2 separate regions of the Homo sapiens genome follow, and region 2 is linked to region 1. A link means that fine-mapping ties the variant in region 1 to the expression of a gene that starts in the linked region. Tissue or cell type: lung. Region 1 holds a variant in brackets; the other region holds the start of a gene. All regions are shown on one strand. Distances are from middle to middle.

Region 1 (2,690 bases):
GGATAAGGAAAGAATTTTTATTTTTGTTTTTTTAATGAAGAAACCAAAGTTCACAGAAGTTATATGATTGGCTCAAAGTACACACTTAAAAGAGAATTTTGAGAAATTGTCCTTGGGAGAAATGACCTTAGACATAATAACATGCTTCAGTAATATCCCTCAGAGAAAGATTTCCATTCCTCCTTTTGTACTTTTCAATTTAGTTAATGATTGGGCTCTGAGGTTGTCGTAAGAATGTGTGAGAAGAACTTCTATAGTTCCACTATTCTTTTGCCAGGCTTTATCCATTTCAGACTGATGGGAGTACAACCTATTTTAAATGTGATCTAGATGGAAAACTTAACAGTTTCTCCTTGGATGGACCATTCCAATGTCAAACTTTGCTGACTTACAGGCCTCTAAAACAATTTTCCTTTGAATAAAAACAGGGGGCAGATTATTTCCTAAGTGACACAGAAATCAAGAGCCTGAGCATTTGTTTCAGACAGAACTGGATTCAAATTTCACCTTTGTCCTTTGCTATTCATTAGCTGTGTAACCTTCGAACGGTTACTGAACATCTTTAAACCAGGAACTGTAATAACTACTCCTAAGTTTACTCTGAATATTAAATTAGGTTCATATTTGTAAAACACTTTTCAGCACTTGGCTCAGTGTAAGTGACAAAAAAGTGGCCGCAAATGCATATGAACCACATGCTCGTTGAACAGATTTTATATTTATTACTGCAATAATGAAACAAAAGAAACACTGCTGAAATGATCACCAAACAGTTGTATGCAGTTACAACATATAATAATCTCTGAATAGTGATGCCACAGTTATTCTCTTTTCATATTCCTTTTCCTTTTTGCTTCCAGGATGTAACATTGTTCTAATCTTTAATTTGCCAGAGAATTTAAGTGATCTGAAGAAAATACACAGTATCTGCTTCTGTTTCTCTCTGTCATTAAATCTGGATTGCAAGAAAAATTATTTATCCAGGTGTCCTCTTTTGGTTGTTTCCTTGATTTACATAAAAATGATCTCCTATCCTTTTCCCTCTTTTCCCCCAAATGAGGAGGACAATGAAGATCTGAAGTGCCAGCTGCAGTTTGTTAAGGAAGAAGCCGCTTTGATGAGAAAGAAAATGGCCAAGATTGATAAAGAAAAGGACAGATTTGAACACGAGCTCCAGAAGTACAGATCCTTTTATGGGGATCTGGACAGTCCTTTGCCCAAAGGAGAAGCCGGAGGCCCTCCCAGCACTAGGGAGGCCGAGCTCAAGCTACGGCTAAGGCTGGTGGAGGAAGAAGCCAA[C/T]ATCCTGGGCAGGAAAATCGTCGAACTGGAGGTGGAGAACAGAGGCCTGAAGGCGGAACTGGACGACCTTAGGGGCGATGACTTCAACGGCTCGGCCAACCCGCTCATGAGGGAGCAGAGCGAATCCCTGTCGGAGCTGCGGCAGCACCTGCAGCTGGTGGAAGACGAGACGGAGCTGCTGCGGAGGAACGTGGCCGACCTGGAGGAGCAGAACAAGCGCATCACGGCGGAGCTCAACAAGTACAAGTACAAGTCCGGCGGCCACGACAGCGCGCGGCACCACGACAACGCCAAGACCGAGGCCCTGCAGGAGGAGCTGAAGGCGGCGCGCCTGCAGATCAACGAGCTCAGCGGCAAGGTCATGCAGCTGCAGTACGAGAACCGCGTGCTTATGTCCAACATGCAGCGCTACGACCTGGCCTCGCACCTGGGCATCCGCGGCAGCCCCCGCGACAGCGACGCCGAGAGCGACGCGGGCAAGAAGGAGAGCGACGACGACTCGCGGCCTCCGCACCGCAAGCGCGAAGGGCCCATCGGCGGCGAGAGCGACTCGGAGGAGGTGCGCAACATCCGCTGCCTCACGCCCACTCGCTCCTTCTACCCGGCGCCCGGGCCCTGGCCCAAGAGCTTCTCCGATCGGCAGCAGATGAAGGACATCCGCTCGGAGGCCGAGCGCCTGGGCAAGACCATCGACCGGCTCATCGCCGACACGAGCACCATCATCACCGAGGCGCGCATCTACGTGGCCAACGGGGACCTGTTCGGACTCATGGACGAGGAGGACGACGGCAGCCGCATCCGGGAGCACGAGCTGCTCTACCGCATCAACGCTCAGATGAAGGCCTTCCGCAAGGAGCTGCAGACCTTCATCGACCGCCTCGAGGTGCCCAAGTCTGCGGACGACCGCGGCGCCGAGGAGCCCATTTCCGTGAGTCAGGTACAGTTCTGCCTATTGCGAGCCACGGCGGTGGCCAGGCTGGCCCGTGGAGCCGCGTCCCTGGGGGGCGTCTCGGCGCCCGGACTGCCGCGCCCCGCTTGAGGGAAGCCCCCGCTCAGGGCCGCGCTGGGGCCTGAAACCCCCGGCCTCGGCCCACCAGTTCTTCCACACTGTCCTTCTGCAGGGCTGAGGTTTTTGTGACTCCATCACATAGTCACCATTTCTTCCTCTGTTTTGTTTAAAAGGAAAACTGAACACCATTACCCTCAATTGTTGTGGAAAGAGTAACGGATTTTGAGGCACGTTATTATTTTAGAAGGTCAATATTTTTCTCTGTTACTCTGCTAGCAGATGAACTGCAAGATGGTCCTGGATAGGAATATTTAACTGCTGATATGTGGTTTTTGAGCCAAGATCCATATTGAGTTTAGGATTTAAAAAAAATGACTAGACT
Region 2 (2,690 bases), 43 kb before region 1:
ATCAAAACATAGATGCCTGAGCAGAGTAAAAATTCTTAGAGAAGCAGGACTATGCATATTCTGTGTCTTTAGACTGTGTTTACAGTATCAATATTTTATTGGTAAAGATTGAGCTGAAAAATATTTGTATCTACTTTATCCATTTTGATTGGATGAGACATGTGCATCTTGATATTTCTTGAGGATATTACAGCTCAAGTTTGGGTACATAATAAGAAATTGCCTAATATAAATTCAAACCAACTTGTGATTACATTTTCACTTGCTTTTTTTTTTTTCCTTTATTTTTGGTATGCTAGTCGAGGTGTGGGCTTTTTATTATAAATGTCACAGATGTCACTTTTCCTGTTCCCAAAGGTATTTGAAAGAAAATAAGGAAATTATCTCAGTTTTCACCAGTATGCTTGAGTGTCCCCAGCACAGGGACAATTTCTTGATTCAGCTTTGCATCCCAGTACCTTGGACAGTGCCAGGCTCAAAATTGGCTTTTAATACCTATTTTGGAACATGAATGATTTTATCGTGATATCATATTTGTTTTATGTGTCTCTAAAGATAAGAATAACCAGAGCTTGAGCATGTTTTTATTTTGCTGTAATAATTGCTTTTATGCAAACTACTCCTAAATTGTTTTTATTTCACTTTTAATGCAAGATCAACACTTGGAAAATTGAATCTCTTGAGCCAAAATTCATGTTGGCACAAAAAGCTATTATTATTTCAAGATATCTTCTTCCTTTTACTTACAAAATCACCATATAAATGTAAGACAAATTAAATTTTAAAATGCCCTTTCAAAAGCAGTACTTACTTTTATTCTCATACTCAAGCTCACAAAGGAATTCTTAGAGGTAGAAGGGAGGCTCCCATGCCCCCCGCCCACCACTGAAAGAAGAAACTGAAAAGAAAAAGAGAAAATTCCACTTAATTTTTAAAAATATTATTACTGTGAAACAGTATGGGTTAGTGTAAATTGTAAAGACATGTATATTCTGAACTCCTCTTTTTAAATGAATTCCCTTTTAGGCTGATATAATGTATTCTTCCTGGTTTCTGTTATTGTTCGCATGCACTACTATAAAGATTATGGATCCCAGCAATTACTCATTTTCACGGTAGAAACCGGCACTCAGTAGAAAACAGGAAAACGTACTGAAGGCAAACCGTTCTGTAAAGGATCTCTGTGGGCCGATATTTATTTCGGTTTGCACTAAATTAGTCGTGGCTTCGCAAGAACCCTTTGTCTGTGGGACGGTGGGTCCCATCATGGCAACCATTATCTATTCGTGGAAACGACATCTGATGACTCCGCCCGGGCTGGGGGTGGGGAGGGAGCACCGCGTGTAGAGCTCGACTGAGAATTAAAGTGAGTGAACAAAGAGAACTCCCAGCAGCCGCCAGCCAGCTGCATCAGGAGATGTTAGTCACGCCCGGAAGGCTGTTCTAGTCCGCCTCCTTGGAAAAGAAGCTCAAGTAAATAATTGATGGAGAATGACCGAACCCAGGACAAAGCTTTGCAGGAAACCAGTGCATCCGTGTTCGAGCGGTTTTGGGATCCTCTGCCAAGTACGGGATAAGAGAATAGAGCAAGGAGTTTGAGCGCTGCTGCCAATCTTCCATCTCGGGCGTGGCTCTGGCCTTTTTGTCTCTTTATCCCGCCACTCCCCACCCCCGTCCCCCGTCCCCCTCCCCGCCTTCTTCTCTTTCCTCTTGAAAGTAACCTCTCTTTGGTTACTTCTACCCTATCGTCCCTTGCAATCCCGCCTTCTCTCCTGCCCAGTTCGGTGAGGTCAGCTCATGAACATCTCTGCACTTCCTGGGGAGCGTCTGGCCCAGCTTGGTACCTCGCGTGTTAGCCTGCTGAGAGCTGCAGCTCCAGCCCAGCCGCGGACCGCCGGGAAGTCACCCGCTCTGGGGGCAGCTGAATCTTGACGTTACCGCCATTGTTTGGAGAAATCGAGTGGGTGTGGAACTGCGGCGAGCGAGCCCAAAGTCATGCTCAGCCGGAAAGTCGCATACAATAATATGAAGTTGAACTTTCCTCGGCGCAGAAAGGCACAATAATAAACCCTGAGATCCCCGGAATATCAGAAGGAAAGTGCTGTTGATTTGTTCAGCTACTTGGAAACCTCGCCTCTGCTGAGAAGTGAGCAAGTTCTGGATTTCTAAAGGGTTGGGGATGAATGATGGGGTGGGTTAGCAGGCGGATAAAACTTGAGATTAAAAGTGTTGGTCTAAGCCGTGCAGGGGTTGGTTGGGTGATAATTTTCACCGGGAAAGCCTTGAAGAGATGCAGCATCTTGTCACTTTGTGGGAACCACGTGACAGCAGCCGGATACCTTTGATTGTGGAGCCCAGTTACTGGAACACAAGCTTTCGCCTGGGTTAATGCTGTCTGAGGGCTGAGTTTAAACATTGGCTTCTCAGCTCTGGAATTATTCTGCCTGATTAAAAACAAAAATAAGTTTGCATTGGCAATATAAGTTAGTTAGATAGCCCATGTTAGTGCCACCCATGATGATAAACTAGGCCAGACATTCTAGTAGTATCGCGACTGGGAGAGAAGATGTAGAAAACAAGTTGGTGGGCAATTTTCCCCCGATGTCTTCTTTGTTCACCTTTATATTTCAAAGTGAGTTGGAAGGAGATGCCAGAAACAGAAAGGGAGGTGGATTAGGAACCCTTCGGTA

The links. PIP is the estimated chance that this variant, and not a neighbour inherited with it, causes the effect.
Region 2: MTCL3 starts here. The variant in region 1 is the best candidate, but not a certain one, in a credible set for the expression of MTCL3 in lung (TOPMed, PIP 0.79).

What each region holds. Positions count from the first base shown.
Region 1 is chr6:127,474,839-127,477,528 of GRCh38, reverse strand. It overlaps MTCL3 (MTCL family member 3), which reads left to right. Exons shown (of 7, transcript NM_001400265.1): 6 at 1,061-2,236. SOGA3-KIAA0408 (SOGA3-KIAA0408 readthrough) reads left to right here. Exons shown (of 13, transcript NR_174482.1): 6 at 1,061-2,236. Among named protein-coding and RNA genes, the nearest start is that of KIAA0408, 17 kb to the right of the region's middle. The variant C/T (reference allele first, on the strand shown) is at 1,300.
Region 2 is chr6:127,518,035-127,520,724 of GRCh38, reverse strand. MTCL3 (MTCL family member 3) reads left to right here and starts at 1,390. Exons shown (of 7, transcript NM_001400265.1): 1 at 1,390-2,146. SOGA3-KIAA0408 (SOGA3-KIAA0408 readthrough) reads left to right here and starts at 1,390. Exons shown (of 13, transcript NR_174482.1): 1 at 1,390-2,146.